4 linked regions of the Homo sapiens genome follow. The protein of the gene in region 1 interacts with the protein of each later gene in a biochemical or structural test. Each region holds a gene or a part of one and is shown on either strand. Other genes may lie near its edges. The genes, in order: VDR, HR, POU2F1 and MED1.

Region 1 (7,233 bases):
ATCACCTGAGGTCAGGAGTTTGAGACCAGCCTGGCCAACATGGTGAAACCCCATCTCTACTAAAAATACAAAAAAATTGGCCAGGCATGGTGGCATGTGCCTATAAGCCCAGGTACTCTGTAGCCTGAGGCAGGAGAATCGCTTAGAACCCGGGAGGTGGAGGTTGCAGTGAGCCGAGGTGGTGCCACTGCACTCCAGCCTGGATAATAGAGCGAGAGTCTGTGAAAGAAAGAAAGAAAGAAAGAAAGAAAGAAAGAAAGAAAGAAAGAAAGAAAGAAAGAAAAAGAAAGAAGGAAGGAAGGAAGGAAGGAAGGAAGGAAGGAAGGAAGGAAGGAAGGAAAGAAGGAAGGAAGGAAGGAAGGAAGGGAAAGGAAGGGAGAGAAAAGAAAGAATTGTAAGACATGGACCCTGCCCTTAAGTAACTTGTAATCTAGAGAAAGAGACCTTGAACTTCTTGGGCTCCGTCTATAGGTAATGAATTGAAAACTGTGCTAACCATGAGTCTTACAGAGCAGAAGATAATTGGGTGTCAATGTGTGTGGGAAAGACTAAATATGTAGCAGGCATAGGAAATGAGGCTCAGCAGAAAAAAACAAGGCTTGATGCAGATCAGGGCAATCAAGAAATGCTTCATGGAAAAAGATGGCTATGATGTAGGCACTGAAGAACTGGTAGAACTCATACAGGTTTGGGGGAGAGAAAACCCAGCTGGACGGGCACCTAGCACAACTGGAAATGCAGGGGCGAGCATGAGCAGGTCATGTTCCCAGGCCAGCAGCAATGCCAGCATGCCCAGAACAGAGGCTGTGTCCAGAAGCACTAAGACATGAAGTCTGAAAGTTAGGAAGAGGCCAACTTTAGTTTGGACGTGGTCATCAGTAGGGGCCGAGAAAAGTATCTGGGCAGGAGAATGGCATCACAGAATCACTGGAAAGTTAGCAAAGTCCAGTCAGGCTGAGCTACGTGCCTGTAGACACCATGGTGTGGCTGGCAGAAACAGGTCTCCCTAACTCTGGTCCCCAGGTGAGCAGGAAAGACAAGACACCTAATCTTGGGCTCCCCAAGCGAGGGCTTACCCCCATTGCCTTCCCTGGATGCTCCCTGCCCCTTCCTCTCCCACCCTGCCTGACCTGGTAGGGTCTGTGCAGACACCCACTGTGGGAGGAGAGTTGGCAGCTGTTTGGGCAGGTGAGTCAGTCACCTGGGTGTGGTCTACTCCCAGGCTCCCTGTGGAGGGAAGCACCATCTCTTGCAGTAGCGCTCGCTTTCCTGCCATGCCTGTGGCATTGGCTGTCCACTCCCTCCCAGCATAGGCTCTTCCTCACCCCACAGCAACTTCTCTCGTCCTCCCCCTACCTGAGGGCCTGGGCCAATGGACCTTTCTCAAAGCCTGGAACTCACCCACCCTGGGCTTCTGGTTCCTTTCTCTGCTCTTGTGAAACTCCCCAGTTCTGTGGGCAGATGCCCTGGCAGCAGCAGCACCAAGCAAGTAGCTACAGGCCAAAGGCCCTGGTGCCCACTCCTGCCGTCAGCACTCAGCAAGCCACAGCCAGGAGGTCTGTTTGCCCAGCCGCCGTGCCAGGCACCTTTGCTCCCAGCATCCCCTCCACCCCCACAGCTGCCCCAGCACAGGGAGGCAGGCAGAAGCCTGCAGGTGGTGGTGGGGCTCTCTATGGCCCCACACCCTGATTAGTGGCTGGAGAGAACTTCTAAGATTAGAGCTGCAAGGCCTCACCCTTTGGGGCCTTCAAGAGGACTTGAAAACTTCCATGGACAGAAATGTCAAGGCTGTACATGCTGGAGGAGGGGTGGTTTTGCAGAGAACCAAAGAGGTCTAGTCTTTCTATATTCCACAGTCCCATGTCTGGAAACCTGGATGTGGAGACAGCCACATAGAGGAGTCCTCTCCACATCTCACTTCCAGCGCTATGAGAGCTCTGGCATCCTCTCTTCACCCTGATATCTTCTTCAGGATCATGGAACATCAGGGTAGGGAAGAGAAGAGAACTAACATTTAGTGAGCATCTGCTCTGGGCCAGGCATGCATCCAGTTCTCAAATCAGTTGATCCTTTGAGGCAGGTATTATTACTTCCCCCACCTGCATGTCAACACACACAGACACACACACACACACTTTATGGAGGAAGGTACAAGAAAGGAACCTTGGAAGAACTTACATGGTCCAAATCTCTCATTTTACAAACAAAAGAACAAAAGCCCAGAGAGTTTGCCCAAGGTCCCACAACTTGTTCTTGAGAACCCCGACTCCCTAAAGCCCAGATCATCCCCCCTCTCAAATCCTCTTTTTCTTCTTCTTGCATGTGCCTTCCTTTTCACCATAGCAAACCCAATTTTTCTTCACACAGTGGAGTGGGAGTCTCCGTGGCAGGAGGACCCCCGAGGGAGCCCCGAGTGTTAAAGCCCCTCCTATCTTGGACCTTTACCCCCAACCGCAGGAGGAAGGTTTCCTGGAGGAGCTGCTGGCCAGCCCTCCTGACTCCCCTTCCCACCCCACAGTCATTCTGACAGATGAGGAAGTGCAGAGGAAGCGGGAGATGATCCTGAAGCGGAAGGAGGAGGAGGCCTTGAAGGACAGTCTGCGGCCCAAGCTGTCTGAGGAGCAGCAGCGCATCATTGCCATACTGCTGGACGCCCACCATAAGACCTACGACCCCACCTACTCCGACTTCTGCCAGTTCCGGGTATGTCTGCCTGCTGGGAGGATGAGCCGGTCCAGAGGAGAAGCACTAGTGGAGCCAGGGCCCAGGGAGTAGGGACAGAGGGCAGGGGACATCCTGAACAGAACTGGGGTAGGGACGGAGGCTGCTCTGCCCCTGGCACTGGGAGGCTTCGCCTTCCTGTAGACCTTCCTCAAAGCCATTCCTATCAGAGATCAGGGCCAAGGTAGGAAGGCAACCCCAAAATGTGGGTCTGAGACCCCATCTTTCCCTTCCAGCCTCCAGTTCGTGTGAATGATGGTGGAGGGAGCCATCCTTCCAGGCCCAACTCCAGACACACTCCCAGCTTCTCTGGGGACTCCTCCTCCTCCTGCTCAGATCACTGTATCACCTCTTCAGGTAAGCAGGACTTCAGTCCTCCATAGAGTAAGGGAGCGGGGGCGAGGAGTCCACCGCACCTGCCCTGGGGCTGCTGGATGGAAGGAGGTGGAAGGCTCCCTAATGGAAACTTACATAAATACTGTGCGCTATGCAGCGTCTTCACAACAGCCCCTCTGTTACAGAAAGGGGTGACTTACCCAAGGGCCCACACTGGGGAAGAGGCCAAGCTGGGATTCCAGCTGTGTAGCATCAGCCTCCCGGGCCCATGCTGTTTCCTCTAAGCCAGGCTTCAGCCCATGGCCCCCTCCGTGGAGGTGACCTGCTTCCTTTACGTGATATTTTAATCCTGGGCCCTTCAGAAGGTGAAATTTGGAGTGGGAAGGTGAACGTGTTGGTCCTATTGAGGTCCACCTTCCACTTGAGCTCTGGGGACCACTCTGGCCCTGGAGGACCTGTCCCCTCCAGCTCAGCTGAGAGTCTGGGAGGCATCATGCTTTCCTTCCTTTCTTTTTTTTTTTTTTTTTAAAAAAAACACATATGTATATTTAGAAAAGAAATTGTGCTGTATACAATCTGATGACTTGCTTTTTTTTATATGGCATTGTTTTTCCATACCAGTTAGTACGCATCCAGAATATAATTTTTAAGGGCTGCATAGTATTCTGGAATACAATAATGTACCTAATCCCCTACCATTGGATATCTGGATTATTTCTCAGCATTTTAATAAGAAAACAGTATACTTGTAGCCAAATATTTACACTTATCGGAAATTTTCCCTTACAATGAATTCCAGGAAGTGTGACTACTGGTCAAAGAGTACACACAATTATTTGACTAATGTCAAATAGCTTTCTAGAGTACCTTCAGTAATGTGCACCTCCTTTAGCACCCCAGCCCTCATAGGCATTGCCTAATTTCCTGCATCTTTATAAATACTGGCATCAATATTTAAACATTTTTGTTTCTGGTTTGTAGGTGAAAATTATAGATGTTCTACACTGCAGTTCTTTGACCATTAGCAAGGTTGAACATTTTTTTCCATGACTTGATGGGTCCCAAATTCTTTCTTGATTGAGATCCATAGGAACAGCACACAGTCTGCTTGAGGAAGTCTCATTGCTCTGAGTGTCTCTGGCTCTTTGATTTTACTGCCTTATGCTGCTGAAAGAGGCAGAGAGAGTCCCAGAGGGAAGCCTGGGGCTGAAGGGTGACCTGTGGAGTCACTGTGGGATTCCCAGCTGGCTCTGCTGCCAGGGCACACCAGGTTTTTGCAGGGTCTGGCAGGAGGGGGCCTGGTCCAAGTATCCTTAAATAGCTCCTTCTCTTCCCTCATCTCTCCCAGACATGATGGACTCGTCCAGCTTCTCCAATCTGGATCTGAGTGAAGAAGATTCAGATGACCCTTCTGTGACCCTAGAGCTGTCCCAGCTCTCCATGCTGCCCCACCTGGCTGACCTGGTCAGTTACAGCATCCAAAAGGTCATTGGCTTTGCTAAGATGATACCAGGATTCAGGTAAGAAACTTCTGCAATCTCTGGGGAACAGAGTCAGAGTCCTAGACTGAGCTACAAGAAGGGTTGGAGATCACTCATCCACCACTTCTTTTTTTTATTTTTTATTTTTTTAAACGGCATCTTGCTCTGTCACGCAGGCTGGAGTGCAGTGGCGCGATCTCGGCTCACTGCAACCTCCGCCTCCTAGGTTCAAGCGATTCTCCTGCCTCAACCTCCCAAGTAGCTGGGATTACAGGCACCAGACACCACGCCCGGCTAATTTATTTATTTATTTATTTATTTATTTATTTTTATTTTTTTTCCAGACAGATTCTCGCTCTGATGCCCAGGCTGGAGTGCAGTGGCACTATCTTGGCTCACTATAACCTCCGCCTCCCGGGTTCAAGTGATTCTCCTGCCTCAGCCTCCTAAGTAGCTGGGATTACAGGTGTGGGCCACCAAGCCCGGCTAATTTTTATAATTTTAGTAGAGACGGGGTTTCACCACGTTGGCCAGGCTGCTCTCGATCACCTGACCTCGTGATCCAACCACCTTGGTCTCCCAAAGTGCTGGGATTACAGGCATGAGCCATCGCGCCCTGCCCTAATTTTTTTATTTTTAGTAGAGACGGAGTTTCGCCATGTTGGCCAGGCTTGTCTCAAACTCCTGACCTCAAGTGATCCACCCACCTCAGCCTCCCAAAGTGCTGGGATTACGGGCATGAGCCACAGCAGCCAGCCTCCATTGCTTCTTTAAAATAGAGATTCAGACCCTACCCTAGACCTGCGAAATCAGAATCTCTGGCGTAGGCCCAGAAATCTGTATTTAGAAAGTGCAGCCTGTCTTGCGTTACTCTGCAGGCCAGCACTGGAGAGCTAGTCCATCCCCGCACTTTCTGGATGATGGTGTGGAAGCCCAGAGAGGTCCAATGGCCAGCCAGGATCCCTTCCAGGTGTTGGAGCCAGCATGTCAGAGCCAGGCCTAGAACTCCCAGCTCACTGCTGTGTTCACTCCAGCTGGCTTGACTGGAATCCTCATATTATCTCTTTAAATTCAACGATATGATTCCTCCACACCCCAACTCTGAGAGCAGAATGAAGTGATAGAGAGAAGGGCTTGGCCATGTAGACTTGTGAAACAGTCTAGGAATCCTGGAGAGAGATAGGTTTACTGGCATATATGACCCTGGCATCCTTCACCAAAATGTACATTTAAAGACCATTTCCTGGCTGGGCACAGTGGCACATGCCTATCCCAACACTTTGAGAGACTGAGGTAGGAGGATTGCTTCAGCCCAGGAGTTCCAGACCAGCCTGATCAACATAGTGAGACCTCTTCTCTACAAAAAAAAAAAATTATAAATTAGCCAGGTGTGGTTGCACATGCCTGTAGTCCCACCTACTAGGGAGGCTGAGGCAGGAGAATCACTTGAGCCCAGGAGGTCAAGGCTACAGTGATCCATGATTTCACCACTGCACTCCAGCCTGGGCAACAGAGCAAGACCCTGTCTCAAAAAAGAAAAAAATAAAGACCATTTCCTAACCATACTGATACATTTTTGCCAAAATATATAAGTATAAGGAGTTCTACTGGAGAAGGGATCCTCCTTTATCAATTCATTCATATAAATTTCATTCATTTATTCCTATGTTTCATTGTTTTAACACTAGTACTGTATATAATACTTATATTTAAATACTCATGCAGTGTTAATTTTTTTTTTCTTTTTTGAGACGGTTTCGCTCTTTTCACCTAGGCTGGAGTGCAATGGCGCGATCTCAGCTCACTGCAACCTCCGCCTTCCAGGTTCAAGCAATTCTCCTGCTTCAGCCTCCCAAGTAGCTGGAACTACAGGAGCGTGCCACCATGCCTGGCTAATTTTTTGTATTTTTTTTGAGACAGAGTTTCCCTCTTGTTGCCCAGGCCGGAGTACAATGACGCGATCTCAACTTACTGCAACCTCTGCCTCCTGGGTTCAAGCAATTCTCCTGCCTCAGCCTCCTGAGTAGCAGAAATTACAGGCACGCACCACCACGCCTGGCTAGTTTTGTATTTTTAGTAGTAGAGTTGGGGTTTCACCATCTTGGCCAGGCTGGTCTTGAACTACTGACCTCAGGTGATCTGCCAGCCTCAGCTTCCCAAAGTGCTGGGATTACAGGCATGAACCACCACGCCCGGCCAATATTCTTTTTTTTTTTTTTTTTAATTGAGGCAGAGTCTCGCTCTGTCGCCTAGGCTGGAGTGCAGTGGCATGATCTCGGCTCACTGCAAGCTCCGCCTCCCGGGTTCACGCCACTCTCCTGCCTCAGTCTCCCGAGTAGCTGGGATGACAGGCGCCCGCCACTACGCCCGGCTAATTTTTTTGTATTTTTAGTAGAGACAGGGTTTCACCGTGTTAGCCAGGATGGTCTTGATCTCCTGACCTCGTGATCCGCCTGTCTCGGCCTCCCAAAGTGCTGGGATTACAGGCATGAGCCACTGCCGGCCAATATTCTTAAAACAATAGAGTATTGACACATTTAATAGATGTGTTGGGAAATGGCTATATTTATGTATATTTGTATCTTCATTCTTCCCCAAAGTTCATTTGGTATATTGCCATAAAATACATAAACAATATGGTTGAGAAAGAGAAGTAAATCAATCTCAAGCAATGTTATTGTCTTTCAAGTAGCAG
Region 2 (7,233 bases), on another chromosome or scaffold:
GCCCTCCCTGTGGGGCCCAGTGGGTCCTAAGCCCCTGTGCCCCTCTCTGCAGGATGACCGCATCACCAACATCCTGGACAGCATTATCGCACAGGTGGTGGAACGGAAGATCCAGGAGAAAGCCCTGGGGCCGGGGCTTCGAGCTGGCCCGGGTCTGCGCAAGGGCCTGGGCCTGCCCCTCTCTCCAGTGCGGCCCCGGCTGCCTCCCCCAGGGGCTTTGCTGTGGCTGCAGGAGCCCCAGCCTTGCCCTCGGCGTGGCTTCCACCTCTTCCAGGAGCACTGGAGGCAGGGCCAGGTGAGGCACCCCTCCCCTCCCCTCCCGGCCCTGGCCACCCCACCTGCCCCTCGGGGCCTTGGTCCCTAGGCCCAGACAGACCCAGTGGCTCAGGGGGAGCAGGAGGGCTGTCCCCGAGCTGTTCTACTGCCCTTACAACACGCCCTTGCCTGGCCATGGCGGGCACCCTGGCCATTCTCCTCATGGCCTCCTTCCTTTCCCACCACAGCCTGTGTTGGTGTCAGGGATCCAAAGGACATTGCAGGGCAACCTGTGGGGGACAGAAGCTCTTGGGGCACTTGGAGGCCAGGTGCAGGCGCTGAGCCCCCTCGGACCTCCCCAGCCCAGCAGCCTGGGCAGCACAACATTCTGGGAGGGCTTCTCCTGGCCTGAGCGTAAGTGTCCCCAACACAGGGGAGAGGGAGCTGGGAGCCCAAGCCCTAGGGATCGGGTGGCAGAGGAGTCCCAGGGTGACCCCGAGGGGCTGGAAGCAGGTGTTGCTGCCGCCGGGGCAGGGGCTTCAGGGCTGAGGAGGCCAATGGCCGTTCTGTCTCCTCCTGTAGTTCGCCCAAAGTCAGACGAGGGCTCTGTCCTCCTGCTGCACCGAGCTTTGGGGGATGAGGACACCAGCAGGTGTGTATGTCACCAAGGGCCAGCCCTACCTCCCCGCCACCGCAGGCCCCGCCTGGTTCAGCCCTCCCCTCCTCCTCTGCCCCCAACCCCCACCCCGTGGTCCCTGGTACTCTCATGTTTGCCCTCTGGGAGTTACCCCGGTGGTGGTGGGGCTTTGATGGGGTCTCTGGTGCCCAGGTTGGGCCTGCTGGGCATGACCCCCTACCCTGACAGGGTGGAGAACCTAGCTGCCAGTCTGCCACTTCCGGAGTACTGCGCCCTCCATGGAAAACTCAACCTGGCTTCCTACCTCCCACCGGGCCTTGCCCTGCGTCCACTGGAGCCCCAGCTCTGGGCAGCCTATGGTGAGTGTCCCTCCACTCCTGCCCAGTCTCTACTCCCATGCCTGTCTGCCTGTCATCTCGGGGCACACGAGCGTCTGTGCCAAGGCCCTGGGGCCTGAAGCGCTTCTCTGATTCCATTTCTTTCTTTCTTTTTTTTTTTTTTTGTTGTTGTTGAGACGGAGTTTTGCTCTTGTTGCCCAGGCTGGAGTGCAATGGCACTATCTCGGCTCACCGCAACCTCCGCCTCCCAGGTTCAAGCAATTCTCCTGCCTCAGCCTCCCGAGTAGCTGGGATTACAGGCATGCACCACCACGCCCGGCTAATTTTTTCTATTTTTAGTAGAGAGGGGGTTTCTCCATGTTGAGGCTGGTCTCAAACTCCTGACCTCAGGTGATCTGCCCGCCTGGGCCTCCCAAAGTGCCAGGATTACAGGCGTGAGCAACCGCGCCTGGCTCTCTGATTCCATTTCTAACTGTTCTTTCTCTATTGCCATGCAGGTGTGAGCCCGCACCGGGGACACCTGGGGACCAAGAACCTCTGTGTGGAGGTGGCCGACCTGGTCAGCATCCTGGTGCATGCCGACACACCACTGCCTGCCTGGCACCGGGCACAGAAAGGTAGGTCCTCGGCCAGAGGCAGGAGCGGGGACAAGCTACAGAGGTGAGTGTTTGTCGCCACCAGCCCTGGGCCTGCCTGAGCGCTCTTTCCTCCTCAGACTTCCTTTCAGGCCTGGACGGGGAGGGGCTCTGGTCTCCGGGCAGCCAGGTCAGCACTGTGTGGCACGTGTTCCGGGCACAGGACGCCCAGCGCATCCGCCGCTTTCTCCAGATGGTGAGGAGGCAGCCGGGAGCCCTCCCCTTCCCCCCGCCCAGCCCTAGAAGCTCGTCCAGTCCCACCCCAGTGTGCGGTCCCATGTGCTCGCTCCCTGCCCCACGCCCTCAGGTGAGCTGCACAGACCCAACTCGCACAGACAGGTGCAGAGAAGGCAGAGGGGACCCGGAGTTCTGCCGTGGGGCTCAGAGAAGGGGCAGGGGCTGCGGCAGGAGAGCCTGGACCCGATGATGAAATGAGAGCACCAGCTGCCCGAGGCTGGACGTGGTGCTAGGGCCTTAGGCACAATTATCTGTTACCCGTCTCAGCCCCCCGCCCCATGAGGCAGGCACTGCTCCTTTCCCATTGGCAGATGAGAACACCGAAGCTCAGTGGCAGGGCTGGGATCTGAGCTTCTGTCTGTCATGGCCCCAGGTCACTACTCTATGCTCTTCCTGGAGGCAGGCAGCCTCCTCTGCCTTCTGAGACTCCGTCCGGCTGCCCACCTTTTGGTATTTGCATCTTGTTAGGGGAGACTGCCTGGAGGAGATGCTCCCGGAGGGGCTAGCAAGGAAGGGGGCTGAGGGAAGTGGAGGGAGAGATGGGTCAGGTGAGGAGCCAGGGAAGGGGAAGGTGATGGGGTGGGCTGGAGGCAAGAAGCTTGAGGCGCAGGGGAGGAGAGAGTCCAGGGGTAAGGCGAGGGCAGCCCCGTGGTTCCCAAGTCCAGCTGAGCCCTCATTATCCTGGGGAAAAGACTTCCACCTAGTGTCACCCCTCGCCAAGGCACACACACACACGGAGACGTGCAGAGGCCAGCATGGTGTGCACCCCTCCTGCCCACAGGTACACACATGTGTAGATACACACACAGATGCTGGGACACGCAGAGGGGAGCAGACAAGCACACCTCCACACACAGATGGCCTCTTCTGGGCTGGGTGTGGCTGGCCGTGGGCAGTCACTACGGCCCAACCCAGTGACTCACGGGGCAGGGCTGAGGGGCACAGTCTCCCTGGGTGGCCTGGGAAACACTGCTCAGCTCCAGGATGGAGCTGAATCTCCAAGGGCAAAGGAATCTTGGCACCCAGCTGGGACTCCCCTAGGGTCCAATTTGCTTCACCAGCCTTCCCTTCCCCCACGCCCCATCTTGCAGCCCTAAGCCCAGGGGCAATGGCTGAGGTCCTTGCCAAAGGGGGTGGATTGGGCTGGTGGTGGGTTGGAGCACGATGCTGGCGTCCCCTTTGCACATGTTCCCTGGGCACCTCTGTCCTCTGCGAGTCCCTGCCTGCCCAGAGAGCTCCCTGCTCTGGTTAGGCTTGTGAGGTCCCCGTAGCTGTGGCTGCTGCAGAGGCCTCAGCCTGGCCGGAAAGCCTGTTCACCTGCTGGCACTCAGAGCCTCGCAGTGGTCCTTCCCTTTTCTGCATCCGGAATCTTAGGGAGACCCTGATGAACACTTTGAGTTGTCTCCCCAGGGACACACAGCTCTCTCCTCATCCACCACTTAGCACACAATTCTGGCCATTCCAAAGACTTCAGATGAAGAAGTCCTGGTAGACAGTTTATGAACTGGGATTATGCAGGACGTCTCCCTCGGATTTGCAGAAAGGGGTACCATTGAGAGAGGGAGGAGAGGGGCCGAGGTCACAGAGGCTGTTAAAGGCCTCCAGCCCCAGAAAAGCAGGGATTCAGTCTGCCCAACTGTAGGGCCTTGAATCCCTTCCTTCTAAGCTCCTTCCAGCCAAATGTGTGTTCTGCCAACCTGAGCTGCCCCAGCCCCAAACAAACTCAGCCATGCCCTCCCTGCCTGCCCTTCAAGACTTGACCCTTCGGCTCTTTTCTCCACCCCTGGCCTCTGGAAAGTCCATGCCCCATCCTCCTGCAGCCCTGCCCTTCCCTCCCCATCTCGCTCATTCCCCCTTCTCTTCTTTGAGGTGTGCCCGGCCGGGGCAGGCGCCCTGGAGCCTGGCGCCCCAGGCAGCTGCTACCTGGATGCAGGGCTGCGGCGGCGCCTGCGGGAGGAGTGGGGCGTGAGCTGCTGGACCCTGCTCCAGGCCCCCGGAGAGGCCGTGCTGGTGCCTGCAGGGGCTCCCCACCAGGTGCTTCCCAGCGGGCAGGGGCTCTGCGGGGAGATCAGGATGGCAGAAGCGACCCAATCAAGGCCGCAGGCATCCAACATCCCCTCAATACCCAAGAGCCGGGCAGGGCAGGGAGCCGCACGCTGCTGTGGGGAAGAGATAACGGGGGAGCCAAGAGGCCTTGAAGTCACTGAGCCCAACTGGGACTGGCGCCAGAGTCCACTCCTGGTCTCCTGGGCATGCTGATGTCAGGGGGCTCGCAGGGAGACTTTAGGGTCTCTCCAGCAGTTCTGAGTCCCGGTTTTGGCCACAGGCTTTGAGGTGTCCAGTGGTGCATCCAGGAATCTGCTCTCTGAGAGCCAGGGGTCGGGGGTGGTTGTCATTAGAGGAAGCGAACCTCAGGGACCAGGGGGACAGGGAGAGGATGTGTGATCTTGAGCCTCACTGTCCATGTCCCCCCGACACAGGTGCAGGGCCTGGTGAGCACAGTCAGCGTCACTCAGCACTTCCTCTCCCCTGAGACCTCTGCCCTCTCTGCTCAGCTCTGCCACCAGGGACCCAGCCTTCCCCCTGACTGCCACCTGCTTTATGCCCAGGTGAGTGGGATGTGGGCCAGCAGGCTGGGTGTGCTACCCAAGCCTCCCACCTCCCTGTGCCACAGCTGCAGTGGACATAGCAGATCCCACCCTGTGCCAAGCAGGCAGCCACCCTGTGCAGGGGCAGAGTATTCCTTTTGTTTAGTTTGTTTCATTTTGTTTTTTGAGATGGAGTCTTGTTCTGTCACCTAGGCTGGAGTGCAGTGGCACTATCTCAGCTCCCTGCAACCTCCGCCTCCTGGGTTCAAGTGATTCTCCTGCCTCAGCCTCCCAAGTAGCTGGGACTACAGGCGCCCACCACCATGCCTGGTTAAATTTTTTTGGGATTTTTAGTAGACGTGGGGTTTCACCATGTTGGCCAGACCGGTCTTGAACTCCTGACCTCAAATGATCCACCTACCTTGGCCTCCCAAAGTGCTGGGATTACAGGTGTGAGCCACCGCATCTGGCCAGAGTATTCCTTTTAAGTAGGGTGGGGGACAGCGGGTGGGCCCAGGAATGTAGTTGAAAATGCTTTGTCCTCTCTCTTTTTCCTAGATGGACTGGGCTGTGTTCCAAGCAGTGAAGGTGGCCGTGGGGACATTACAGGAGGCCAAATAGAGGGATGCTAGGTGTCTGGGATCGGGGTGGGGACAGGTAGACCAGGTGCTCAGCCCAGGCACAACTTCAGCAGGGGATGGCGCTAGGGGACTTGGGGATTTCTGGTCAACCCCACAAGCACCACTCTGGGCACAAGCAGGGCACTCTGTTCCCCTCCCCCTTAAGCCAACAACCACAGTGCCACCAAGCTCACACCTGTCCTTCTCAGGCTGGCATCTCCCCCACCCTGTGCCCCTTTTCATGGTACCAGGCCCGCACTGGGGGCAATTGACTTCCTCCAATCCCCACTCCTCCGAGACCCAGGAGACAAACAGCCCTTCCTTGGGGAAACTTGGGAATCATTCTGGCTTAAACAACACCTCCTCCTGCTGCTCACTCCCGCTGAGCCCACTCTACTGCCCCAGCTCCGTTTCTACCACCGCATCCTCACTGGGCTCACTGCAGGCATGCTGAACAAGGGGCCTCCAACCTTCTGCCCTCCTGCCAAAAGATCTGGGGAGTGTGAGGAGAGGGTGGCATCAGGAGCTGCTCAGGCTTGGCGGAGGGAGCGGCATGGGCGATGTCACTCAGCCCCTTCCCGGTCCGCCCGCTTCCCTCCTTCATGATTTCCATTAAAGTCTGTTGTTTTGTGACTGCTGCCAGTGTGGTTGGCCCTGCCCCTGCAGGCCACATGGTCCAGGGAGGGAGGGGGACATGGAAATCTGCCTTAGAGACAAATGGAGTAGGGCAGCCCGGAGCTGGGGCCCAAGGGACAGGACACCACTGCCTGCTCTTCGTCTGGGGCCTGGGGCCTTGCCTCCCACTGAGGAGACTTTGGGTGGGGTGGGGGGCTGTCCCCCAAAGATGCTCCTGAGTGCAAGAGCAGGCAAGGCAGAGTCCTGGGGCACAGCCACGAGGTGACCTCCCTGTGCAGAGACTCCCGAGCCCTACTCCACCCAGCAAGCTCCAGTCCGCCCCATCTCTCCCGTCTACCCTGACCTGGAGATCCAGAAGTATGGCCCAGAAGAGCCCTTGCCCCGCCTGTCTGCCCTTGGTGGCAGTGGCCATGGCCGACGCCAGGCCCAGCCACCCTGGGACTGAGCCTGACTGCTTCAGACAGCCGACCCCTCCTTGTCCCCGCTCCACGCCCGCAGCCTCCTGGTGGCGCTCCGCCCTCTCCCGCTTCCTTTGTGTATCTCAGCCCTACAAAGAAAAACACTCCCACTCTTGTCATACCTAATTGTTCCTGCTGTGGTTTGGGGAATTTTTTTTATTAAATAAAGTTTTTTATTATAAGGGTAATATACTTTCAGAACATTCAGAAAATAAGAAAGTCACCTTCTAGCCCATCATTACACACCTCCAACTACTATGAGTATTTTGGCATATTCCCTCCCAGTGCTTTCCCCAAGGATTTGCTGTGCACATAGCTGGATTGCTGTGTTTTGTCCTTGGTTTCTTTCTTTCGACACCATATCATAATCATTTTCTGTGTTGCTACCTAATCTTCATTTTAAATGACTGCTTATATTCCATTAAGTGGCTTTGCCATGATTTACAAAACTATGCTTTATTTAAAAAAAAAAATGTAGGGCTTCTTTCATTGTTTGGAGAACTCAGTTATTTTCATTTTTTTATGGGATAAAGAGGAGAAAAGAAAAGAAAAAACTGAGAACTCTACAGTTTACTTTGCTTTTGTTTTCATTTAATTTATCTCATCTGGCCAGGCGACGTGGTTCACGCCTGTAATCCTAGCACTTGGGGAGGCAGAGGCGGGTGGATCACTTGAGGTCAGGAGTTCAAGACCAGCCTGGCCAATATGGTGAAACCCTGTCTCTACTAAAATACCAAAAAAAAAAAAAAAAAAAAAAAAAAAAATTAGCTGGGCATGGTGGCAGGCGCCTGTAATCCCAGCTACACGGGAGGCTGAGGCAGAAGAATCG
Region 3 (7,424 bases), on another chromosome or scaffold:
AAATTGCAGCTATAAAGGAAATTGACCCGAAATAAATGGTTTCCCTATGAGAAGGCTTCACTGCTACACTTCACCTCAGGACAATAAATCAAATTAACTGCACCTTGTCCTCTGTCCAATGACATCATCAGTTTGACCACATCTTGGGAATCGGGTGCAAAAACATATGCTATTTAAGGCATGAAATTATATTGCTGCTTTTTGTCCATCTGACCTCATACTTCAGGTCTCTGAAGCAGTCATTCACCTGAAGGTTCTCTTAAAAGCTACAGATTTTTTTTTTTCCTGCTGCATTCAGGGCCTGCCTACTGTGAGTGAAAGAAGAAAAATGGTGAGAACTGGTTATCTGAAATTAGCTTGCGTTTAATCCATCAAACCTAGAATTTTGTTACAAATTAAACTGAAGACCAAAGTCCCACAAAATACATAGCTAGCCACTCACCAAAATGTCTTAACATAATTTCAAAGGTTTAACACATTAGTGTTAAACCCCACTCCTCTAATACTTCCCTCGACTACGCAGCGGTAAACATCCACCAGTGACAGGCAACACTAGTCACACTCACACTCACACACACCCCTACACAAAATAAAAATGTTAAAAGAAAATTTTACCACAGGAAAGACCAAAAATCAAAATTACTGTTTCCTCTAAACAGTAAAAGTTAATCTGCCTCTCACAAGCCAACTGTCCTAAGTCTAGATAAAACATAACATCAATTCTGACAACTTAAAGAGGAGGGGCGGGTGTGCTGGGAGGAGAATAAGTTCCAAGATCAGGGTAAACGCAATGCCTATGTTTATTCTTCTCTTTTCACTCATTTAATCATGACACAAATACTCAAAGAAAACATAACCCCATTTTTTTGTTTTCAGTAGTGCTACAATTAAAATAAGCAAGTCTATGACAATGATAGCACAAAATTAACGTCAGCTCCATTTTAAATTAGAATGAAGATGTCAGAAAGGTAGCACCACACCAAGAAATTATGAAACTGTTGTTAATTGGAATTTCTAATATTTAGCTACTCCACAACTCCTAGAGGAAAAAAAAAGTGTCAGTTTTACAAATACTACAGACCTTTACAAAGCCTTAAAGTATTTAACATGGGGGTGGGGAGCAACCGGGGTACCCATCCCCAAAACAAAGTGATTTGGATTAAACCAAAATAGATTTCATAGGCTCTGAAAATAAAATACAGGACAGATTTTTCCCCCTAGGCCCAATACTACTGCAAAGTATAAGAAAGTCTTTTTAAGAGAAAACAAACCATCACAGAGTTGATACTTAGCTAGGACCTGTTTTAATGCTAGTAAAGCCCCAAGAGAGTTTGTTTTGCCCGCAGAGGAGGGGAAAGTGTGTGGAAGTTGGTGGAGGTAGTCATTTTGGTTATTAGTAAATAAATCAAGCAGCAGAGAACATGAGGCCTAGGCAACTGCTAGAGAAGCCAAGGCCCAGCTTCCCCCCTCTCTTCCCAGCACGGCCTGGGTTTGATCTCAGAGCCCTGCGGATTGCCAAGGAAAAAAAAAATCATATCGAACCACAAAAGCACATGGGGCGAATGTAAAATATAAACACGGCGTTGGGCTGTGAGTGGCTGTTATTAAAGGTCTGAATTACTAAACATGAGAGGCGGGGAAAGCCAGGCGGCCATTTCAATAATATAAACCTCCCCGAATTAGACATTATTCAAATGAGAAGAGGTTCAGCTAAGCAGAGAGTAAAGACGACCCAGCACACAGCGAGAAAACACCGCCACAGAAGAAGGGAGGGGGATCCCCGTCCCTCCCCACCGACTCCCAACAGGAGAGAGGAAATCGAGAATACGATCAACTTGTCAGGCCAGCCCATTCTGGGGCAGGAGGGCAGCCCTTTACATCCAAGTTCTCGGGAGGCCTCTGGGCGCTTCTGGGGCCTCGGAGCGAGAGGCCCCGGAGGGCCACCCGCCCCGTGCGTCCCGGTCAGGCGCAGGGGGTGGGGGGAACGGAGGGGGGGCAGCGGGGAGGGGCAAAGGGAGACGGAGGTCAGACCACGCCAGGCACCTCCAGCCCAACTCGCCCGCGAAGCCCCGGCCGACAACGCAAAGGGGCTGCCGACCGCCGGCCGGGGGCGCGCGGGCCGCCCCAGAGGACATCCCCTCGGAAGGAACTTGCCCCAAGGACTCCTTCCAATCCAGTCCACCCCCCAGGGGGGGCACGCAGACCCCTGCGCGGGTTCCCCACCCCCGCCGCCCCAGGCCACCTCGCAGCGCCCACGACCGCTCACCCCTACCCACCTAGAGAGCAGGCCTGGCTTGGGTCAGGCCACCACATTGGGGACCAGTGGGGCGAGGCCGAAGTGCCTGGGGCCGTGACCCCCGGGCTCAGCCCCGCGCGGGGCGCGGGCAGGGAGCTCTCCCCGCGCGCACCCCCGGTTGCCCTGAGGGCCGCCCCCCAAGGCGGGCAGCGCCCCCCCGCCCGGGCCCGCTCCCGGGGGAAGACGCGTGCGGGTGTCCGGCCGCCGGGGTCCGCTCCGGCCCCGCCGCCTCCCCGGCATTGTGCTCGCCGCCGCCTCCATCCCCCTTCACGCCCCCCACCCCGCGCCCGCCCGGCCCCGGCCGCCCGCCCGCGCCCTACTGCGCCCCGCCGGCCCAGCAGCTATGAATATGTAAAATGTCTTTATTGTCCTCTCCCTCTGCCCCGGCCCCGCCGCCCCGCCGCGGACCCGCTCGGGTTCGGGCACGGCGGCGAGGAGGCGGCAGCGGCGGCCGGCAGAGGAGGAGGGCCGGTGCCGACGGGCAGACGGCGAGCGGCGGCGGGGTGGGCCGGGTGCAGGAGGAGGGCAGTGGATCGCAGCCCCCTTTGCCCCTTGTCTTCCCCCTCCGCCTGGCCGCTCCGAGCCTCTTTCCCCCTCCGCTCAGCGCCCGGCGGGGGCTCAATGCTCCCCGGCCCCCCATCTCCCCGCCGTTAATTATAATAATCCTGAGTACTAATAAATTATGCTAAGTCGCGGGGGGGGGCAGCGGGAGCCGGGGTTGAGTATGAATATGAATATGTAAAATGCTGTAATGATTACCTGCTGCTGCTGCCGCCGCGGCTGAACTCTCATCTTGACTCGCTGCTCCTCCGTCCGCCATTTTGAATATTTTAACCAAAATCGCCCGGTCGATAAACCCTCCCTCGCTCTGGCTCCCCTCCCCCCTCCCGCCCTGCTTGCCTCCTCCCTCCTCTCCGCCCCCTCCCGCTCCTTCCTCTCCCCGGGCGCGCGCCAGGGGGCGCGCGAGGCCGGCTCTGTTCGCCCCGGCCCCCTCAGAAGAGCTCCACCCCCTTCCCGCGCTCTGCGCACGCGCCTTCGGGGCGCTGTGGCCCTTCGGTAGCTAAAGCAGCGCCCTCAATCAGCCAGGCACCCTGTGGCTTCATTTTTCGTCTCGGCTCTGCGCATGCGCGCCTTTCTCCTGCCGCCAGAAGTGTCGCCGGCGCATGCGCTCCCTCTAGCTCAGAACCAGATTATATAGTATCCCGGGCGCCTGTGTCTTCTTACACTTCTCCCTTTTCCTCCCGCCTTGCTTCCCTCCTGGCTTCGCTCCGGTCTCCCCCAGTGGCCTGTGGCATTGTAAAAGCACGGCAAGGAGCGCAGCGGCCAGAAACGTGGGGGCGCGTGGAAGGGCAGTGAGCGGCCCGCGTGCCCTGTGCTCCGCACTTTCTTCAGGGTTTCCGCGCAGTTGAAACATTGGCAACAATGGATAAGCCGCTCCTCGCTAGGTAATTTCCGGCCCTCTGGGCAGGTAGGGGCGGAAACGACCGCCACGGGAGCCGGGCATGAGGCACCTGCTGAGCCACACGCGGGCCTCCCGCTTTAAATTTGAATCCGAGCTAATCCCCGCCCCCGGCTCTGCTAGTGCAGGAGACCCGGCCCCGGCAAACGCGAGGGGGAGTGTCGTGTGATTGTTTTAATTAGCCCTAAATCTCTTCTGCTCTACTTGCTTCTAACGCCAGGCTGGCTTCCTCGGGAGCTAGGCGTCTTATTAAGTCGCTAATTTCCGCCCTACCCTTCCTTTCTGCCTTCACGCCCCTCTAACGCCGCTCCCCCCAATCGAAACAGACCCCATATTCTGAGGCTTCCCCCCGCGCCTTCTTCCCGCCTTGGAACACCTTTTAAAACCTAGCAGTAAGCTGATGACTAATAAAAATGTCGAAATCGTAACTTCATCGTGAATTTTATTTTGCTGTGTTTCTCAGAGTAAATATGGTATTGGGGAAAGGTTTCGCGTTGCACATATCTTTCTTGGTAACTAGACATAATGTTGCTGAGTTTTCTTTATCTTAAATGGCGAAATTCCCTGGACAAAGTCCCAGGTCTAATTATTTTACGAATTTTTAAAGCCCTATTTTTGTTTGTTTGTTTGTTTTTTAAGAATAGAAAGGTGTATTTCATGGTAAGCAAAGTTTAAAAAAAATCAGCTCTAGTTAATCTGTCTTGAGAGATATGACTGAAGTTTAAATTGGGTAGAACTGCTGGTTCTACAATTAAAAACAAAACTGATTTCCAAGTGAGTGCAATTATTTTAATGGGTAAAGTTTTAATCATCAGTCCTAGAATGCTCGTTGGACTCCTTTAACTGTGCAAGTACAGTTAAAGCTATTGTCAGTGACAGGCAACGATTTGGGGGTGGGATTGATTTGTTCGTGGTAATTAAGCCTTAGGGTGTGTGCATGACTGTTTGAACCAAATAATTAGACCGCCCTGTAATCTAATTATTTAGAGCCACGCCAACCAGCACACTTAAGGAAATGAAATATTTAACTAGTTAATCTGGAAATATGGCCTAAGTTATTTTCACCAGCATTACTGTAAGGGAAGTCTCAGAATTGACAACCTTATTGGAAATAGTTAAGTACATGCCCCTGCTCTGGGGACCACAAATTTGAAATCATCTCCATTAAGAAAAAGAGCTCAAATACCCTCATTTAATTTCCTGTCTTCTATTTAATCCTAGTTTTGCTCTTTGGTTCAAAAAGTATATTAATATGACCTTCGGAAAGTCATTGAAGCTAGTGTATGTGTTATGCATTCTTTACTGTTTCACTTCTATAAAAGGAAATTTTCATGGAAAGGATTTTTATTTAAGGAAGGATAGTTCTGTGAGAACAAAAATAGCTTAAAATAGACTGTATCAAAGTTTCATTTTCCTCCTAATGAGTTATTTATGTTTCCAGCTGTCCCCAGTGCCTAGCACAATGCCTGGGCATAGTAGGTGTTCATATTTGTTGAAGAAAAATAGTGAATATACAGTTATGTATGTTAGGATTATTTGTAAAATTAATGTCATTTATTCAATAAAAAATTGTAAACATCTGCATTCTCATGAACTTACTAGGTGCTAAAGATAGGAAAATGTGTAAGACACTACTTTAACCTCAGCAAACTCACATATATCACTTTAAAAAAGAAAAAAAAAAACCCTTACAATACCCTGGGAGGTAGAAACTCTTTATCCCAGTTATCTAGGATGGGAAGATTGAGGCATAGAGATGTCAAGTAACTTGCCCAGTGTCACACCACTATTAAGTGTTAGAGCTAAAATTCAAACACAGGCAAGGGACCGTACTCTTAACCACTACACTAAGTTATTTGCTTTGGGTCAGGCAAAATCTTGGAGGTACATGTATTAGACTGTTCGTGCATTGCTATAAAGAAATACCTGACACTTGGTAACTTACAAGAAAAGAGGTTTAATTGACTCATGGGTCTGTAGGCTATACAGGAAGCATAGCACTGGGAAGGACTATGTTTCTGGGGAAGACTCTGGAAGCTTACAGTCGTGGTGAAGGCCAAGCAGGAGCTTGTACATCACACAGGAGAACAGGAGCAAGAGAAAGGGTAGGGGGGCAGGTGCCACACACTTTTACAAGAACTCACTGTCATGAGGACAGCACCAAGGCGATGGTGCTAAACCATTCATGAGAAATCTACCCCAATGATCCAGACACCTCTGTATTAGTCTGTTCTTCCACTGCTATAAAGAAATACCTGAGATGGGGTAATTTACAAAGAGGTGTAATTAGCTCACAGTTCCACAAGCTGTGAGATACACACTTAACCAGATCTCATGAGAACTCACTGTCACCAGAACAGCAAGGGGGAAATCCACCCCCATGATCCAATCACCTCCCTCCAGGCCCCACAACCAAAATTGGGGATTATAATTTGACATGAGATTTGGTGGGGTCACAGATTAAACCATATGGGTACATATAGTTCAGTATAGGAAGGGAACAACACATTAACAAACAATGTCCTTGTATATAATGTCATAATAAAAATGTAGGCCAGGTGCAGTAGTTGCACCTAAAATCCTACCACTTTGGAAGACTGAGGCAGGAGGATTGCTTGACACCAGGAGTTCAAGACCAACCTGGGCAACACAGTCCCTGTCTCTACAAAAAGCCAAAAGTTAAGGTGGGTGTGGTGGCACACACCTATGGTCCCAGCTCCTTAGCTCCTTGGGAGGCTGAGGTGAGGGATGAGGACTGCTTGAGGGCAGGAGTTCGAGGCTGCAGTGAGCTATGATGGTGCCACTGCACTCCTACCTGGGTGACAGAGTGAGACTCTGTCTCAAAAAAATGATTTTAATAAATAAATACAAATAAAAAGGTATATGTGGATGAGAACTTAACTTCACTTAGAAACAAATAGCAACTATTATAATTGCCAAAAAGTAGAAACAATTCAAATGTTTTTCATATGAATGAATAAAACATTCATACCATGGAATACTACTCAGCAATTGAAAAGAATGAACTACTATCATATACAACAACTTCAATGAATCTCAAAGGCATTATGCTGACTGAAAGAGGCCAGTCTCAAAAGGTTATATACCATGTACTATATGGTTCCATCTGTATGACATTAATGAGATAACAAAACTATAGTGATGGAAAACAGATCAGTGTTTGCCAGGAGATAGTTACAGGGGAAGATGTGATTATAAGGGATAGGCACAAGGGAAGTTTGGAGGAGGGGGGTGGTTAATGGAGTTGTTCTGTATCCTGAGTATGGTAGTGGTAACACAAATCTGTACATATAGTAAAATACACACATGGCACAGTAGTGCAGGGGAGTGGTGGTTACTTCTGCCTAGCTGTTACCATTACTGGATGAATGTTCCTTAGTAACAGCCCTAAAGTGTCAACAGGAATGTGTTCCATCTGTCTTGCTAAAGTGCAACACACAGGCTCCCTTGCAGCTAGGTGTGGCCATGTGTGACAAAATTTTGACTATTGAATTATAAAGAGTTAATTTGGTGGGATTTCTGGGAATGCTTTTTCAAGAAGCAAGTTTTGGGAGGCCGAGGCGGGAGGATTGCTTGAGGCCAGGAGTTCAGGGCCAGCCCTGACAACATATGAGACTGTGACTCTACAGAAAATATAAAAATTAGCTG
Region 4 (7,233 bases), on another chromosome or scaffold:
CACTTTGGGAGGCTGAGGTGGGCAGATCACGAGGTCAGGACTTGGAGACCAGCCTGACCAACATGGTGAAACCCTGTCTCTACTAAAAATACAAAAATTACCCAAGCATGGTGGTACGCGCCTGTAATCCCAGCTACTCAGGAGGCTAAGGCAAGAGAATTGCTTGAACCCGGGAGGAGGAGGTTGCAGTGAGTCAAGATTGCGTCACTGCACTCCAGTCTGGGTGACAGAGCGAGACTCCATCTCAAAAAAAGAAAAAAAGTACTTTTGAATAAATAAGTAAATGAGCAACTCATAAGAAGAGATATAAACGATCTGACCTGAGATAATCAGCTTACTCATTGTTTAAAAAGTGTAGAAGGATGGGCCTGGTAGTTTATGCCTGTAGTCCTAGCTACTTGGGAGGTTTGGGCGGGAGGATTGCTTGAGCCCAGGAGTTTGAGACTGTAGCATACCATGATCGTGCATGTAAATAGTCATGGTACTCCAGCCTGGGCAACGTAGTGAGTTACTGATCAAAAAAAAAGTGAAGTTTTCTAAATTAAAGAACTATGGTAATGGACATTATTTTCTGTTTGCCCTTGATACAAGAAAAGATAAAGAGAGATAGACTGCCGGGCGCGGTGGCTCATGCCTGTAATCCCAGCACTTTGGGAGGCTGAGGTGGGCGAATCACCTGAGGTCAGGAGTTCGAGACCAGCCTGACCAACATGGAGAAACCCTGTCTCTACTAAAAATACAAAATTAGCCAGGCGTGATGGCCCATGCTTGTAATCCCAGCTACTCAGGAAGCTGAGGCAGGAGAATCGCTTGAACCTGGGAGGCGGAGGTTGCAGTGAACCGAGATTGTGCCATTGCACTCCAGCCTGGGCAACAAGAGCAAAACTCTGTCTCAAAAAAAAGTGAAATGGACTAATACCTCCTTAGGTCCCTTTGTAGCTTCACTCATTGACTCCATCCCTTTATTGTTTGTTTGTTTGTTTGTTTATTTATTTATTTAAGATGGAGTCTCACTCTGTCACCCAGGCTGGAGTGCAGTAGTGCGATCTCAGCTCACTGCAACCTACACCTCCTGGGTTCAAGTGATTCTCCTGCCTCAGCCTCCCAAGTAGCTGGGACTACAGGCATGCACCACCACACCCGGCTAATTCTTGTATTTTTAGTAGAGATGGGGTTTCACTATGTTGGCCAAGCTGGTCTTGAACTCCTTACCTGAAGTGATCCACCTGTCTTGGCCTCCGAAAGTGCTAGGATTACAGGTGCGAGCCTTGGCGTCAGGCTCCTTTATTGTTATTATAATTTGGCATGGGGGACGGGGTAGGTCTCACTGTGTTGCCCAGGCTGGCGTACAGTGATTTGATCACAGCTCACTACAGCCCCCGAAGTCCTGGGCTCAAGCCATCCTCCCGCCTTGGCCTCCCAAAGTGCTAGGATTACAGGTGTGAGCCAGTGCACCAGCCTGTCCTTTTATTATGATCCTACTTAAATGCATTCTGAAGAAAAAATAAGTAAATATTGATACTGAACCCTTCAAAAATGATGTTTTTGGACTGCATTGTTTCTTGTGTTTTATTTACTGACAAAAATTATTGGTTGATTAGAAAGGTAACTTCCAGGATTTCTAATTTTTTTTTTTTTTTTCCCCAGACAGAGTCTCACTCTGTCGCCCAGGCTGGAGTGCAGTGGTGCGATTTCGGCTCACTGCAACCTCCGCCCCCCAGGTTCAAGTGATTCTCCTGCCTCAGCCTCCTGAGTAGCTGGGATTACAGGCGCCTGTCACCACACCTGGCTAATTTTTGTGTTTTTAGTAGAGATGCGGTTTCACCGTCTTCTGCAGGCTGGTCTTGAACCCCTGACCTTGTGATCCACCCGCCTCAGCCTCCCAAAGTGCTGGGATTACAGGCATGAGCCATCACACCTGGCCTGATTTCTAAGTTTTATAGGAACTACAGGCCGTGCCTGGTGGTTCATGCCTGTAATTTCAGCACTGTGGGAGGCTGAGATGGGTGGATCAACTTTAGGCCAGGAGTTTGAGACCAGCCTGGCCAACCTGATGAAACCCCCATCTCTACAAAACATACAAAAAAATTAGCCAGGCATGGTGGTGCATTCCTGTAATGCCATGTACGTGGGAGGCTGAGGCATGAAAATTTCTTGAACCTGGGAGGTGGAGATTGCAGTGAGTCGAGATCACACCACTGCATTCCAGTCTGGACAGAGTGAGACTCTGCCTCCAATAAAAAAATAAATAAATAGGCTGGGCGCAGTGATTCACACCTGTAATCCCACCTGTAATCCTAGTCCTTCGGGAGGCCAAGATGGGCGGATCATGAAGTCAAGAGATCGAGACCATCCTGACCAACATGGTGAAACCCCATCTCTACTAAAAATACAAAAAATTAGCCGGGCATGGTGATGGGCGCCTGTAGTTCCAGCTACTTGGGTGGCTGAGGCAGGAGAATGGTGTGAACCCAGGAGGTGGAGCTTGCAGTGAGCTGAGATTGCGCCACTGCACTCCAGCCTGGGTGACAGAGCAAGACTCTGTCTCAAAATAAATAAATAAATACATAAATAAATAAATAAGGGAATAACAGCATCTGATAAATTATAGCTGACAAATATTGCAAAAATTAACCTCTTAAAACATACTGTGATTCCCATCATTTGTATTACTTTGAGGAATACCCTTTTTCTTTCCTATCCCCAGTTTCTCGATCTTTGGGCATGAATGCATCAGTGACAATTGAAGGAACATCTGCTGTGTACAAACTCCCAATTGCACCATTAATTATGGGGTCACATCCAGTTGACAATAAATGGTAAGTTAAATATAATTTTAGAGTAGCAAAGTCAATTTTTCTCAAAGCGCAGTATGTAACAAGTTTTAACCTGGCTGTTACCCCACTTGAATTTCTAGAGGTTGGCCTTTTGTTTTATCCATTCATTGGTTTCTCTTTTGTTTGATATCTGAGTGTTCCTCTCCAAAGTCGGCTCGTAGAACACATTCTCTGCACTGAAAGGGAAAGAAGAGAACTGTGCTAATTCCTCTGGCTTAATGAGTGCCCCCTTTTATCTTACGTTCATTAGTTACATTGGAGTAATAACTGGAGAACATGCCTCAGGATAAATGTTTGATTAAATTCTACAGTGTTAACCAATAGCATGTCTGGGAATTGGGGGTAGGAAGTTTCACAGAGTGAGCTTTTGAGAGTTTGTACTTATGTGTCTGTGTGATACATACATGTTTAAGAATAGGTGTTTGTGGCCAGGCATGGTGGCTCACGCCTGTAATCCCAGCACTTTGGGAGGCTGAGGCAAGTGGAACACCTGAGGTCAGGAGTTCAAGACCAGCCTGGCCAACATGGTGAAACCCCATCTCTACTAACAATACAAAAATTAGCCGGGCGTGGTGGCGGGCACCTGTAGTCCCAGCTACTCACGAAGCTGAGATAGGAGAATCCCTTGAACCCGGGAGGCAGAGGTTGCAGTGAGCCAAGATCACGCCATTGCACTCTAGCCTGGGCATTAAGAGGGAAAATCTGTCTCAAAAAAAAAAAAGGTGTTTGGGTTTTTCATTTTTATATCAAGTCAGAATCCAACCCTTCCACCCTCTTTTTTTTGAAGGACCCCTTCCTTCTCCTCAATCACCAGTGCCAACAGTGTTGATCTTCCTGCCTGTTTCTTCTTGAAATTTCCCCAGCCAATCCCAGTATCTAGAGCATTTGTTCAGAAACTGCAGAACTGCACAGGTGAGTTTTGAGCATCAGGATCTAGTACTTGTTATAAATGTGAAAAAGAAACTTCAAAGTCAGGTTATCATGACGTCTTTCAGTCTTACATGCCTCATTGAAGTATTACTGGTAAAGATGTTATAGTGCTTTGTACTAGTAAATGCTTAGTAAGTACTCTTTTGGGTGAATGAATGTAGATATCAAGGGGAAACTGAGCTGTCAGTGTTTTCATCTTAACATGATCATTATATTGATTCTTGTTTTTCCAGGAATTCCATTGTTTGAAACTCAACCAACTTATGCACCCCTGTATGAACTGATCACTCAGTTTGAGCTATCAAAGGACCCTGACCCCATACCTTTGAATCACAACATGAGATTTTATGCTGTAAGTAAAGCCCTAGGGAGCTAGAATGTTGTAGGTTATGTTTGGACCCAAGATCATAATCTTCCTTTATAGCATTATTGAGGTCAGATAAGTTTCTTCAAGACTGCTGGATCATGTCCTATTTCTTTAGTAAGGCAGGAAATTACAGAAATCTCAGAAATGGGCTGGGCGCGGTGGCTCACACCTGTAATCCCCGCACTTTAGGAGGCCAAGGCAGGCGGATCGTGAGGTCAGGAGTTCGAGACCAGCCTGGCCAACATAGGGAAACCCTGTCTCTACTAAAAATACAAAAAATTAGCCGTGTGTGGTGGCGGGTGCCTGTAATCCCAGCTACTCGGGAGGCTGAGGGAGGAGAATGGCTTGAATCTGGGAGGCAGAGGTTGCAGTGAGACAAGATTGTGCCATTGTGCTCCAGCCTGGGTGACAGAGCGAGACTCTGTCTCAAAAAAAAAAAAAAAAAAAAGAAATCTCGGAAATGTATTGAAGTAAAAGGGCATGAGCTTCCATTAGGAAACAACAATGTACAGTTCTTTGTTGAAATTTTGGGTGATTGGCCAGGTGCAGTGGCTCACACCTGTAATCCCAGGAATTTGGGAGGCCAAGGCGGGTGGTCACTAGAGATCAGGAGTTTGAGACCAGCCTGGATAACATGGTGAAACCCCGTCTCTACTAAAAATATAAAAATTAGCTGGGTGTGGTGGAACATGCCTGTAATCCCAGCTACTTGGGAGGCTGAGGCAGGAGAATCACTTAACCCGGGAGGCAGAGGTTGCAGTGAGCCAAGATTGCGCCACTGCACTCCAGCCTGGGCAACAAGAGCGAAATTCCGTCTCAAAAAAAAAAAAAAAAAAAAAAAACGAGGCTGGGCGTGGTGTTTCACATGTCTAATCCCAGCAGCACTTTGGGAGGCCGAGGCAGGTGGATCACGAGGTCAAGAGATCGAGAGCATCCTGGCCAACAGGGTGAAACCCCATCTCTACTAAAAAAATACAAAAATTAGCTGGGTGTGGTGTCATGCACCTGTAGTCCCAGCTACTCGGGAGGCTGAGGCAGGAGAATTGCTTGAACCCGGGAGACGAAGGTTGCAGTGAGCCAAGATCGCACCACTGCGCTTCAGCCTGGCAACAGAGCAAGACTCCGTCTCAAAAAAATAAAAAAGAAAAAGAAATTTTGGGTGATAGACTTTTTTTTTTTTTTTTGAGACGGAGTCTTGCTGTGTCGCCCAGGCTGGAGTGCAGTGGTGAGATCTCAGCTCACTGCAAACTCCACCTCCCGGGTTCATGCCATTCTCCTGCCTCAGCCTCCTGAGTAGCTGGGACTACAGGCGCCTGCCACCATGCCTGGCTAATTTTTTGTATTTTTAGTAGAGACGGGATTTCACCATGTTAGCCAGGATGGTCTCGATCTCCTGACCTCGTGATCCGCCCGCCTCGGCCTCCCAAAGTGCTAGGATTGCAGGCGTGAGCCACCTTGCCTGGCGGGGTGACAGACTCTTAATGGTATTTTGAACTTTTAGAATATCATAATTAGGTGTTATAAATTCTTACTGTTTAATTCTTTCAAGTGCCATGAGCTTAGAATCTGGAAAGATCCTGAAAGTACTTACAGAGAGGAAAATGCTGGAAGCAGTAATTAAGAGGCTGGGCACAGTGACTCACACCTGTAATCCCAGCACTTTGGGAGGCCAAGGCAAGGCAGATCACTTGAGCTCAGGAGTTCAATACCAGCCTGGGCAACGTGGCAAAATCCTCTCTTTTTTATTTTTTTATTTTTTGAGATGGAGTCTAGCTAGCTCTGTTGCCAGGCTGGAGTGCAGTGGCGCGATCTCGGCTCACTGCAACCTCCGCCTCCCAGGTTCAAGTGATTCTCCTGCCTCAGCCTCCTGAGTAGCTGGGACTGTAGGTGTGCACCACCATGCCCAGATAATTTTTGTATTTTTAGTAGAGACGGGGTTTTACCATGTTGGCCAGATTGGTCTTTATCTCTTGACCTTGAGATCCACCCTACTCCGCCTCCCAAAGTGCTGGGATTACAGGCGCAAGCCACCTTGCCTGTCCTTTTCTTTTCTTTTTTCTTTTTTTTTTTTTTGCTCTTGGTGCCCAGGCTGGAGTGCAGTGGCACGATCTCGGCTGACTGCAACCTCTGCCTCCCAGGTTCAAGCGATTCTTCTGCCTCATCCTCCGGCAAAATCCTGTCTCTACAAAAAAAAAATACAAAAATTAGGCTGATGTGGCCGGGAGCGGTGGCTCACGCCTGTAATCCTAGCACTTTGGGAGGCCGAGGCGGGCAGATCATGAGGTCAGGAGATCGAGACCATCCTGGCCAACATGGTGAAACCCCGTCACTACTAAAAAACACAAAAAATTAGCTGGGTGTGGTGGCGGGCGCCTGTAGTCCCAGCTACTTGGGAGGCTGAGGCAGGAGAATGGCGTGAACCCGGGAGGTGGAGCTTGCAGCGAGCAGAGATCGTGCCACTGCACTCCAGCCTGAGCTACAAGAGCAAGACTCTGTCTCAAAAAAAAAAAAAAAAAAAAATAGGCACATGTGGTTGTTCATGCCTGTAGTCTCAGCTGCTCGGGAAGCTGAGGGGCTTCATCCTGGGAGGTAGAGATTGCAATGAGCCAAGATTGCACAATTGTACTCCATCCTGGGTAATGGGAGTGAAACCCTGTCTCAAAAGTAATAATAATAATAATAAGGGAACGTTCCAAAACCTCATCTGGACTTGTATTTATCTGAATCTTTTACAATAGACTAAAGTAGTGGTTACCAAATTCTGGCTGCATTATTATTATATAGGTGTTTTATTAAAAATAGAGAATTTGCAGCCGGGCGTGGTTGTTTATTCCTGTAATCCCAGCACTTTGGGAGGCCCAGGTGGGTGGATCACGAAGTCAGGAGATGGAGACAATCCTGGCTAACACAGTGAAACACTGTCTCTACTAAAAATACAAAAAAAATTAGCCGGGCGTGGTGGCGGGTGCCTATAGTCGCAGCTACTCAGGAGGCTGAGGCAGGAGAATGGCATGAACTCGGGAGGCGGAGCTTGCAGTGAGCCGAGATCGCACCACTGCACTCCAGCCTGGGCAACAGAGGGAGACTCTGTCTCAAAAA

What was found.
Region 2: the proteins of VDR (region 1) and HR form a complex in vitro, tested with the Homo sapiens proteins (2 studies listed by BioGRID and IntAct).
Region 3: the proteins of VDR (region 1) and POU2F1 form a complex in vitro, tested with the Homo sapiens proteins (one study listed by BioGRID).
Region 4: the proteins of VDR (region 1) and MED1 form a complex in vitro, tested with the Homo sapiens proteins (5 studies listed by BioGRID).

Annotation. Positions count from the first base shown.
Region 1 is NC_000012.12:47,852,974-47,860,206, reverse strand, and holds part of VDR (vitamin D3 receptor), read left to right. Parts: intron 1-2,518; coding exon 2,519-2,703; intron 2,704-2,957; coding exon 2,958-3,078; intron 3,079-4,405; coding exon 4,406-4,577; intron 4,578-7,233.
Region 2 is NC_000008.11:22,113,778-22,121,010, reverse strand, and holds the end of HR (lysine-specific demethylase hairless), read left to right. Parts: intron 1-52; coding exon 53-295; intron 296-503; coding exon 504-669; intron 670-837; coding exon 838-907; intron 908-1,120; coding exon 1,121-1,251; intron 1,252-1,727; coding exon 1,728-1,847; intron 1,848-1,945; coding exon 1,946-2,061; intron 2,062-3,971; coding exon 3,972-4,136; intron 4,137-4,582; coding exon 4,583-4,711; intron 4,712-5,248; coding exon 5,249-5,311; 3' UTR 5,312-6,592; downstream 6,593-7,233. UniProt on the Homo sapiens protein: Histone demethylase that specifically demethylates both mono- and dimethylated 'Lys-9' of histone H3. May act as a transcription regulator controlling hair biology (via targeting of collagens), neural activity, and cell cycle.
Region 3 is NC_000001.11:167,216,590-167,224,013, reverse strand, and holds the start of POU2F1 (POU domain, class 2, transcription factor 1), read right to left. Parts: upstream 3,129-7,424; 5' UTR 3,117-3,128; coding exon 3,056-3,116; intron 1-3,055. UniProt on the Homo sapiens protein: Transcription factor that binds to the octamer motif (5'-ATTTGCAT-3') and activates the promoters of the genes for some small nuclear RNAs (snRNA) and of genes such as those for histone H2B and immunoglobulins.
Region 4 is NC_000017.11:39,420,213-39,427,445, reverse strand, and holds part of MED1 (mediator of RNA polymerase II transcription subunit 1), read left to right. Parts: intron 1-2,707; coding exon 2,708-2,819; intron 2,820-3,624; coding exon 3,625-3,749; intron 3,750-4,000; coding exon 4,001-4,119; intron 4,120-7,233. UniProt on the Homo sapiens protein: Component of the Mediator complex, a coactivator involved in the regulated transcription of nearly all RNA polymerase II-dependent genes.